Homo sapiens: one gene and its partners. The protein of the gene in region 2 interacts with the protein of the main gene of each other region in a pairwise test. Each region holds a gene or a part of one and is shown on either strand. Other genes may lie near its edges. The genes, in order: TMEM201, CYB5R3 and FAXDC2.

Region 1 (3,168 bases), on a different chromosome or scaffold from region 2:
TGCCCACCCTGCCCGGCAGCACAGACATAGCCAAGAGTCAGCCAAGGGTGACCAGGTCCCCCAGTGACCTGAGAGTACCGTTGGGGGATGTGTGAAAGGAGGGTCCTAGTGGGCTGTGGGTATGAGGTGGTCAGCTGGGCCACGCAGCTCCTGGCCCCAAAGGGTGGGCTCTAGCAGGAGTGGCTGGGTCTTGCCAGTGCATCCCCACTCCTCCCAGCTCCTGCTCACACCACCCGGGGCTGCCTCAGTGCTTAAAGGCTGAATCTCCTGGCCACCTGGCACAGGGGCTGTTGTTCCCAGTTTGGTGCCACTGAAGATGGTGCTGTGGGGAGTTCCTTCGCAGTTTGACTCCCTCACTGTGATATGTGGGAACATCACTCAACCAGCAAGACCTCGTAAATCGCTCACAGGGCTGGGCATGAGGGGCTGGGCTCTGTACAGGCGCCCCAGCGAGCCTCCGCCAGCTAAAGGAGCCCAATCTGTTGGACCCTGGAGAACTCCAAAGGTGCTAACATTTCCTTTGGCGAGAGACCCCCCCCGACTGCCCTGTGCCCTCAAACCACGTCTCAGAGAGGGACTAAGAGACCAGGATCAGGCCTGGATGCTGGCTCTGGGGAGTGTCAGAGAGGGACTAAGAGGCCAGGATCAGGCCTGGATGCTGGCTCTGGGGAGTGTCAGAGAGGGACTAAGTGACCAGGATCAGGCCTGGATGCTGGCTCTGGGGAGTGCCGGAGCGGATACGCTCATCTGACACCAAGGGGAGATGTCTGGTCTTCTCCGACCCAATCCCAGCCCACATCAGGAGTGGAAGGAGAGAGACCACGTTTTAAGCAACAGTTTATTGAGACGGAAAAAATATGATCCAGCAAAGGCGAGGAGGCGAGCCGGGCCCCGAGCCAGCTGGTGTCATTGTCACTGGCTCCCAAACCTGACTCCTGTGGACGTGTCTGTACCCCAAACACAGCTGCCCACCCCAGCCCTGGCACAGAGCCCTTCTGAAAGAAAGAAAAAAGAAGAAAGACGCGGCACCTGACGCCAGCGGGTAAAAGCAGGGCCCCAGAGGCATTTATTGAAAACACAGCATCCAAAACACGACATCTAGGCCAGGCGCGATGGTTACAGTGATGAGAGGGTCACTAGACAATTATCCACAATTCTACGACATGAGACAGAGACTCAGCAACAGTCACAGACAGAAGGGTCATGTGTTCCTTCCTGGGCAGGGCTGAATGTGGCAGGTGCGGCGTGGAGGCTGCGTCCTGGCGGTTTGCTCCCAGGCAAGGGGTACGGGGGGCCGGCTTGGCCTGGGTGGGGACCTCAAGTCTGAGGGTGAGGATGGCTGAATCTACCTCGCTTATGTCTCAGGGACGGTCACCCATACCTAGGATGACCCCAGCCAGACCCTAGAAGGTCTGATGGCCATCCCAAGTCCCCCGCGAGGAGAAGAGTTCCCTGGCAGGGGTGACACATTCCCGGTCAACAAGCCACAACACAGTGGTGCCTGCACTCTCTCAGCTGTTGCCACAACACTTGGTGCTGGAATTTTCTCCACGTAGTGAAACTTTTAAGGGACACATGAATAATTTAAAAAGTCACACAAAACTCTACGAAAGGCAGGAATCCTCACTCTGCTGAGAGCTACCTCCTGAGATGTCGCTTCCGGACCCCGGCAGAGGGCAGGAGCGACATCAGCTCGGCAGGAGGATCCTGGCCAGCGCGAGGGCTGGCTCTGGTTATTATAAATAATCTAATTTAAATACGCACATACACACAGATGTCCTGCTTCTACCCAACGCCAAGAAAAGCAGACATTAGCATCACACTGTCAACACTTCCTCGAGAACCGAAGATTCGAGACGCAAGCAACAGCATGGCCAGCCGACAGGACGCTTTCCCGTCCTGGCTCCACCACGTCCTTCTCTCAGATGGGCTCTTTGTGGGCTGGGGGGTGGCGTGAGTGCACAGGCAGGCGGTTCCCTGCCCCTCAGGTAGACACCATGGGGGGCCGCTTTGGCTCACCCGCCCCAACTCCTCACTGCAGAACCAGTGGGAAGCGTGGCCCCGACCACATCTTTTCAGAGGGGTTTTCTCACCTCACGCTCCACACAGAACAACAAGCTGAGCCCAGTAACGCTGGGGCCTTGTCTGAAGCCACGCAGGTCATCGGGCACAGAGGCCACAGAAGCCCCCGAGGGTCTCCCGATGCACCTGGGTTCCTCACTTGTGAAGCTGGGTGGGATGTGAGCTGCTACCCAATCACTGGGGTGGGGCAGCCTCTAGGACCCCCAGGCGTGGCAGATTCACAGCAGTGAGGCCTGGCACCTGCCCCCCCAACCCATCCCGGCAGACCCAGGTGACGGGTGTAACCCTCATGCACCTGTGATCTGCTCTTGCCTCCCCCGGGGTTCCAACGCACAGGAGAGAGGAGCTGGCACACCCTGGCCACATCTGGAAGGTGAACTCGTGCTCAGAGTGGCGAGTGGCAGGACATGTGGGCCCTGAGGGAGTGGGCAGCCAGAGGGAACATGCCCGGTGAGGGACGGCCTCGGGCCACTCTCGACTGGGACCCCTGGATAAAGCCCCCAGGCCGGGAACTTCCTCTGCACGTGGCAGCCCCTCGACTTCCAGAGTGTGTCCTCATGAGCCACCTCATGTGATCCCCACACCCACTGAGCTGGCACCCAAGGGCTATGGAGAGGGGTCCACCTCATTTCATAGATGGCAAACTGAGGCTGAGAACAGCAGGGGCCTGGCCAGGCCCTGCTACTGAGGAGCAGGTCTGTGGGCTGCCCCCTCACCTGAGTCGGAGGACAGAGTGGCGCTGGGCCATGGTGAGCAGGCACCTGCAGAGGCTCGTGACAGGTCAGGGAGGGAAAGGATGACAACGACCTGATGTCACTGAAGGCCTGCATACCCTGGGCCCCTTACCCTTGGAAAAGCTCAGATTCCCCAAGGTCAGCACAGGCTCCTACTGCCTGTCTCAGGTGGGGTCTCGCTCCCCAAACTCATGGCGAAGGCCAGGCTGGGCCCAAGAACTGCACTCTCCATTTCCGGGGACTCGGGAGGGTCTTGGAGCAGGAGGCCAAGCAGCAGCCAGAGCTGCAGCTCGGCCTCCTTCACGGCTCCACCACCTCCTGCAGGGCCGGTCCAGCCATAAGCAGGACCAAG
Region 2 (3,650 bases):
GATGGTGTCATCACTTAGAGGGGGACAACAGACCTCTCCAACAGGGCAGGACATCACAGATGCCCATCTCGGCTCAGTACGAGAACTCTCCGACCTGAGCAGTGTTCCAGCACAGAGCAGCTGCCTCAAGGAGAGACCCGTCCCTACACGTGTGAGCAGAGGCAAATCGCAGGAAAGACGGTGCAAACGCCACTCAGGATCAGGTGTGCAGGGGGCCCACCAACCTCTCCCAGGCAGCCCAGGCCTCAAAGCTGCCTCTACCAGAAGCTTCTGCATTAGGGGCAAACAGAGCCCCAAGGCCTTCTGGAAGTGGATTCCAGGACTATCAACTGGTCCTAAGGGTCAAGGTCAGACACCCATGTACCAGAAAATATTTGGAGGAAGAATAGAAATGAGATGGCCAGGCGTGGTGGCTCATGCCTGTAATCCCAGCACTTTGGGAGGCCGAGGTGGGCGAATCATCTGAGGTCGGAAGTTCGAGACCAGTCTGAACAACATGGAGAAATCCCGTCTCTACTAAAACTACAATGTTAGCCAGGCGTGGTGGCGCATGCCTGTAATCCCAGCTACTCAGGAGGCTGAGGCAGGAGAATCACTTGAACCTGGGAGGCAAGGTTGCAGTGAGCTGAGATCGCACCATTGCACTCCAGCCTGGGCAACAAGAGTGAAACTCTGTCTCAAAAAAAAGAATAGAAATGAGGACAAGAGATGAACAATTATGGTGCTGGCCAACCTCTAGTAGGGCAGCAGGGTGGGGCAAAGCACAGAGCACCCAGAGCAGGCCCGCTGCGGACCCCGCAAAGCCACCATGGGCACAATGAGGGGGCAAAGCTGCAATCCTAGGACATCTGCCACATGCTCCCTTGTGTAACATCCCTATGATGAAATACTAAAAGGATCCATGTTGTATGGCTGGCTACAAAACCAGGTTATCAAAAAAAGAAACTGAGTGTGCACACACCCGCACCTCCACACACCCGTGTATGAACGTGATACCCACATAGGGTCTGGCAGGCTCACGCTGAGCTGTGACCTGGGCCCTCTGCACGGGGCCCTGGGATGCGGCAATGGGGCAGGGGTGGAGGTCATACCTTACAGAGTTTTTGCTGTGAGCACATATAAATCATACATTATTTCTGGAATTAAGAAACAGTAGGGTCAGACGTGGTGGCTCATGCCCGTAATCCCAGCACTTTGGGAGGTCGAGGCGGGCGGATCACCTGAGGTCGAAGTTCGAGACCAGCCTGACCAACATGGAGAAACCCCATCTCTACTAAAAATACAAAATTAGCTGGGCATGGTGTCGCATGCCTATAATCCCAGCTACCTGGGAGGCTGAGGCAGAAGAATCACTTGAACCTGGGAAGTGGAGGTTGCGGTGAGTCGAGATTGTGCCATTGCACTCCAGCCTGGGCAACAAGAGCGAAAGTCCATCTCAACAACAACAAAAAGGAACGACAGTAACAGAGCCAGGCATAGTGGTGCATGCACATGGTCCCAGCTACTCAGAAGGCTTGTGCCCAGGAGTTTGAGGTTGCAGAAAGCAGCCTGGGTGACAGAGCGAGACCTTGTTCTAAAAAAACACAAACAAAAACAAAACAACCCACCAATAACAATAACAAGGGAAAATACCGTTAAAAAACAGGTTTCAAAATGTTATTATTTCATTTGGGTAAGAAAAAAACATGTGTGCCTGCTTACATAAGTATAAAACATATCACAGGGCCAGGCACGGTGGCTCACGCCTGTAATTCGAGCACTTTGAGAGGCCAAGTCGGGTGGATCACCTGAGGTCAGGAGTTCGAGACCAGCCTGGCCAACATGTTGAAACCCTGACTCTACTAAAAATACAAAAAAAAAAAAAATTAGCAGGGCGTGGTGGTGGGCACCTGTAATCCTAGCTACTTGGGAAGCTGAGGCAGGAGAACCGCTTGAACCTGGGAGGCAGAGGTTGCAGTGAGCCGAGATCACACCATTGCACTATAGCCTGGGCAACGAGAGCAAAACTCCATCTCAAAAACAAACAAACAAACAAAAAATCATATCGCAAGGTTAAGTGTGGTCTCATCTGGGAGGTGGTGATTTACTTTTTTTTGCTTTTTATTTTTTATTTTTTTGAAACAGAGTTTCGCTCTTGTCACCCAGGCTGGAGTGCAATGGTGTGATCTTGGCTCACTGCAACCTCTGCCTCCCAGGTTCAAGCGATTCTCCTGCCTCAGCCTCTCAAGTAGCTGGGATTACAGGCATCTGCCACCACGCCCGGCTAATTTTCATATTGATTGATTGATTGATTGATTGAGACAGCGTCTTGCTCTGTAGCCCAGGCTGGAGTGCAGTGGCACGATCTCGGCTCACTGCAAGCTCCACCTCCCAGGTTCACGCCATTCTCCTGCTTCAGCCTCTGGAGTAGCTGGGATTACAGGCATCTGCCACCACGCCCGGCTAATTTTCATATTGATTGATTGATTGATTGATTGAGACAGCGTCTTGCTCTGTAGCCCAGGCTGGAGTGCAGTGACACGATCTCGGCTCACTGCAAGCTCCACCTCCCAGGTTCACGCCATTCTCCTGCTTCAGCCTCTGGAGTAGCTGGGACTACAGGTGCCTGCCACCACGCCCAGCTAATTTTTTTTTTTTTTTTTTGAGACGGAGTCTTGCTGTCACCCAGGCTGGAGTGCAGTGGCGCAATCTCGGCTCACTGCAAGCTCCGCCTCCCAGGTTCACGTCATTCTCCTGCCTCAGCCTCGCCAGCGGCTGGGACTACAGGTGCCTGCCACCACGCCTGGCTAATTTTTTGTATTTTTAGTAGAGATAGGGTTTCACCGTGTTACCGGGATGGTCTCAATCTCCTGACCTTGTGATCCGCCTGTCTCAGCCTCCCAAAGTGCTGGGATTACAGGTGTGAGCCCAGCCACGCCCGGCCAATTTTTTGTATTTTTAGTAGAGACAGAGTTTCACCGTGTTAGCCAGGATGGTCTCGATCTCCTGACCTCATGATCTGCCCTCCTCGGCCTCCCAAAGTGCTGAGATTACAGGTGTGAGCCACCACGCCTGGCCTAATTTTCGTATTGTTAGTAGAGATGGGGTTTCACCATGTCGGCCAGGCTGGTCTTGAACTCCTGACCTCAGGTGATCCACCGGCCTCGGCCTCCCAAAGTGCTGGGATTACAGGCATGAGCCACCGTGCCTGGCCAATAATTTACTTTTCATTTTGTATTTTTTTGCTTCTCTCTGGTTGTCAACTTCTCTGTGAGCTCCTGGGACAATTACAGACACTTGCCCCAACAGTTACAGGAAACGGCCAGCTCCGTGCCATGGAAGCCTGAGATTCCTGTGAAGCCTGAGTCAGAGGCACCAGGCACAAGCCCAGGGTGGAGACTTGGGCCCTGGCAGATGATGTTCTCTGCTGTGACTCAGTTTTCCCTGCCACACCCCTCCTGTGCCTGCTGGGGGTGGCCAGAAATAGAGCAAGGGAGGGGCTCTGAAGAGGGCAAGTGACCGATGGAAGCAGCCTTTACTGGGGGCAAGGCAAAAGAGGGAGAGGATGGTTTTAAATCATAATCAGAGCTTTGAAAAAAAGGAGTCAGGCCGGGCACCACGGCTCATGCCTGTAATCCCAACACTTTGGGAGGTGGAGGTGCGGGGATCAC
Region 3 (3,750 bases), on a different chromosome or scaffold from region 2:
CAAAATCTAGGCTTCTTAACACTTTGCCTAGTGCTGTATGTATTTTGGGAATAGCATAACTTCTATTTCATAAGAAATGACACAGGGAGAGGGCAACTGACCCAAAGATTAGAACTCCCCTTACTTCAGCCTCTGCTCTCAGACTGTATGCTAGGAAAAAGCTGAGCAGTCGACCTCCAGGGCTGAGGAGACTGACCTGTAATGTAATTACACAGTTTAAAGCCTCTGGTGAAGAGGGTTTTGAGGAGCTGCTATGACTCAACATCTGTACTAATCTGAGGCTTATATAGAAGATAGAGTGGCCGATATTCATTTAAGAAGATGAAATGCGGCCAGGAGCGGTGGCTCGCATCTGTAATCCCAGCACTTTGGGAGGCCGAGGTGGGCAGATCACCTGAGGTCAGGAGTTTGAGACCAGCCTGGCCAACATGGCGAAACTCCGTCTCTACTAAAAATATAAAAATTAGCCGGGTGTGGTGGTGCACGCCTGTAATCCCAGCTGCTCTGGAGGCTGAGACAGGAGAATCGCTTGAACCTGGGAGGCGGAGGTTGCAGTGAGCCAAGATCATGCCACTGCACTCCAGCCTGGGCGCCAGAGCAAGAGTCTGTCTCAAAAAAACAAAAAAAAACAAAGATGAAATGCGGCTGGGCACGTTGGCTTATGCCTGTAATCTCATAACTTTGGGAGGCCGAGGTGGGTAGATCACCTGAGGTCAGGAGTTGGAGACCAGCCTGGCCAACATGGTGAAACCCCATCTCTACTAAAAATACGAAAATTAGCTGGGTGTGGTGGCGGGCACCTGTAATCCCAGCTACTTGGGGGGCTGAGGCAGGAGAATCTCTTGAACCCAGGAGGTGGAGGTTGCAGTGAGCTGAAATCGCGCCACTGTACTCCAGCCTGGGTGACAGAACGAGATTCCATCTCAAAAAACAAAAAAAACAAAAACAGAAGATGAAATGCATGAAAGGAAAGGTTAAAAATGATTCCCATGGGCCAGTTTTAGTAATACTCTCTTCACTCCTTTTGCTGCATGGTACTTGCACCCTTTGAGCTTACTGTTCTGCTTGATTGCATGTCCATGAGGCCGAGAATCTGCCTGTCTTGTTTACCACGAGATCCACAGAATCAAGCCCAAGCCTGGCATGTAGAAGATACTCAAGAAAGATTTGCCGAATAAATAAGAGATACACGAATCAAAAGCATTGCTTTTTGCCCTCAAAAAGTGTTCAACATTTGCTATGGAACATTTTAGCACCATTCCCTTGTGCTAATTACTTTCGTAACTAAAGTTAGAAGCTGATGCTCAGTGCATCTGTGTTTTAGCAAATTGAATTGAATCTGTATATCCCACTCAAAGAAATTTAATTGGAATTGCACATGAAACTGAAGCAACCCACAAATCAGCATCTTGTCTTGCTTGCCTTAAGCCCCAGAAGGTCCTGAAAGCCACTGTTCTATTGTTCATCTCCACCTACACACTTTACTGTATGCCCTTTACTCAATAACCTTCGTGGAGTGTTTCCATAGGTACTATCAAGCCACTAACGATTTCACAACTGGAGCCACTGTTGGTAAATCCAAGTATGTTGCATCAAAACAGTTTCAACCTACTTGTCTAGCTCATAGCCCACACATCTATCCAGAGACTTTAAAACTGTTGTATTTTGCCCCATACCTTCCTGGTGATGGCAGAGTAGAGATGAGAAGCAATTAGGCAGCAGTTGCTTCCCAACAGTCTCTTCCAGTTTGTTCTGCCTCTCATTTGAGTTCTGAATTAGGAGTTGCTCCTTTACAAATGGTTTTAAAGTCAAACAATTACTTGTCCATTACAATCACCTGTCAATTGCTAGAAAAATTAGACTACTGAGGAGGTAGATGGTACAAACACAGGCAGAGGATACAGACATTAGTAAGAGACAAGGAGGCGACTGCACTACAGCAATGTCCTAGGACAAATTCTAACCCTGCCATCTAACCCTGTTTAGAGGCAAATCTAACCCTGCCATAAGTAGAGAGGACAGGGTGGTGGCAGAGGTGGGAAGAGTGTTGTTTTGCCCTTACTTTAAGTGAACCTGGACATGTCCTGACCTTTGCAAACACCACCCCTCCCCCGTAGTTCCCACTTACCTCTGCAGTGGGCTGTGTCCAAGCTGCTGAGGTCCTTGCACAGGTCAAATCTAAGTTCTCTTCCCTTTCAGCCCCCGCTTTGGTGGCTGTTGCTGCTGCGGCTCTGCTGCAGGCTAACCTTGTTTTTGCTCGGGTGGGAGGCTGGCCATGGTGATCTCATTACAGAGCTGCGTACTGGCTCGGACCAGGCACGTGATGAAAAAAGTTTGGGTCTGTGTGGGCTGGAAACAAAACACCCTTCTTTCCAGAGGGCATGTCCTTAAAGCGGAAAGGGAATCTAAGCTCAAGCAGGAACTTGAAAAACGTGCATTTGGCCAAACTCTGGGCTTCCCTCCCCCTGCCCCCTTTTTTTCTTTTAAAAAATTTTCTCCATCATCTGCAACTTAAGAAAATGTCGCTGTCCCATAGGAGGAGGCAGATTCAAGAAAAGATGTGGGTGTCAGATAATGGCAGGTAGTACAAGTTGATAAAAAGGTGACAGAGACCAGAGGATCTCATTTTCTTTTTTTTCATTGCTTCTTTTCCTGTGGAGGGCAGGCAAGGGAGGAGAGATGCATCAGCTATTTCTAGTGAGTCTAGATGCAGGAAAGGCATGCCTGTGGAGGGTAAATTTGCACTGTGATTGAAATAGGGGAACTTAGGATACAGGACCCATGACATGAAGTGAGGAGCACTTTGGAAAAAGAGCTGCTTTTAAATTTCTGAAAACTTTTTAAATAAGCAAATGTGCAAATGATATAAAATACAATAGGGTCAAAAGAATGTACAATGAAAAGTCTTTTTTTAATTTCTCCTCAGTCCCCTTTTTTTCCTCCCAAGAGACAACCTCTGTGACCAGATTTTTGTATATCCTTCCAGAGCTTACCTCTGTAAATAGAAACATGTGTAGGCCTTGTGCTTCTCCTTTAGCAACAGCACCATAGTATGTTTGTTGTGCACCTTGCTTTTTCCACTTAACAATCAAACATGGAGATTGGCTAGGCATGGTGGTGCTCACCTGTAGTCCCAACTATTTGGGAGGCTGAGGTTGGAGGATCACTTGAGCCCAGGTATTTGAGACCAGCCTGGGCAGCACAGGAAGACTCCTTTCTAAAATAAACAAAACTCAGAAACTTGGCTGGGCACGGCGGCTCACATGTATAATCTCAGCACTTTGGAAGACCAAGACGGGAGGATCACTTGAGGCCAGGAGTTCAAGACCAGCCTGGGCAATGTAGCAAAACCCCATTTCTACTACATATACAAAAAATTAGTAGAGCTTACTGGCACATGTCTGTTATCCCAGCTACTGGGGAGGCTGAGGTGGGAGGATGGCTTGAGCCCAGGAGTTGGAGGCTGCAGTGAGCTATGATTGTGCCCTGCACTCCAACCTGAGTGACAGAGTGGGACCCTGTCTCTAAAAAACAAAACAAAATAAAAAATGCCGGGTGCAGTGGCTCATGCCTGTAATCTCAGCAATCTTTGGAAGGCTGAGGCAGGAGGATTTCTTTTTTTTATTTTTTGAGATGGAGTCTTGCTCTGTCACCCAGGCTGGAGTGCAATGGCATGATCACAGCTAACTGCAACCTCCGCCTCCTGGGTTCAAGCGATTCTTCTGCCTCAGCCTCCCGAGTAGCTGGGAC

Evidence for each region.
Region 1: the proteins of CYB5R3 (region 2) and TMEM201 interact in binary tests that used the Homo sapiens proteins (3 or more experiments, as listed by UniProt).
Region 3: the proteins of CYB5R3 (region 2) and FAXDC2 interact in binary tests that used the Homo sapiens proteins (3 or more experiments, as listed by UniProt).

Annotation. Positions count from the first base shown.
Region 1 is NC_000001.11:9,602,825-9,605,992, reverse strand, and holds part of TMEM201 (transmembrane protein 201), read right to left. Parts: exon of another isoform or gene 1,044-3,168; intron 1-1,043. UniProt on the Homo sapiens protein: Critical regulator of angiogenesis and endothelial cell (EC) migration. Promotes the migration of endothelial cells, which is essential for angiogenesis.
Region 2 is NC_000022.11:42,632,347-42,635,996, forward strand, and holds part of CYB5R3 (NADH-cytochrome b5 reductase 3), read right to left. Parts: intron 1-3,650. UniProt on the Homo sapiens protein: Catalyzes the reduction of two molecules of cytochrome b5 using NADH as the electron donor.
Region 3 is NC_000005.10:154,848,355-154,852,104, forward strand, and holds the start of FAXDC2 (fatty acid hydroxylase domain-containing protein 2), read right to left. Parts: upstream 2,250-3,750; 5' UTR 2,129-2,249; intron 1-2,128. UniProt on the Homo sapiens protein: Promotes megakaryocyte differentiation by enhancing ERK phosphorylation and up-regulating RUNX1 expression.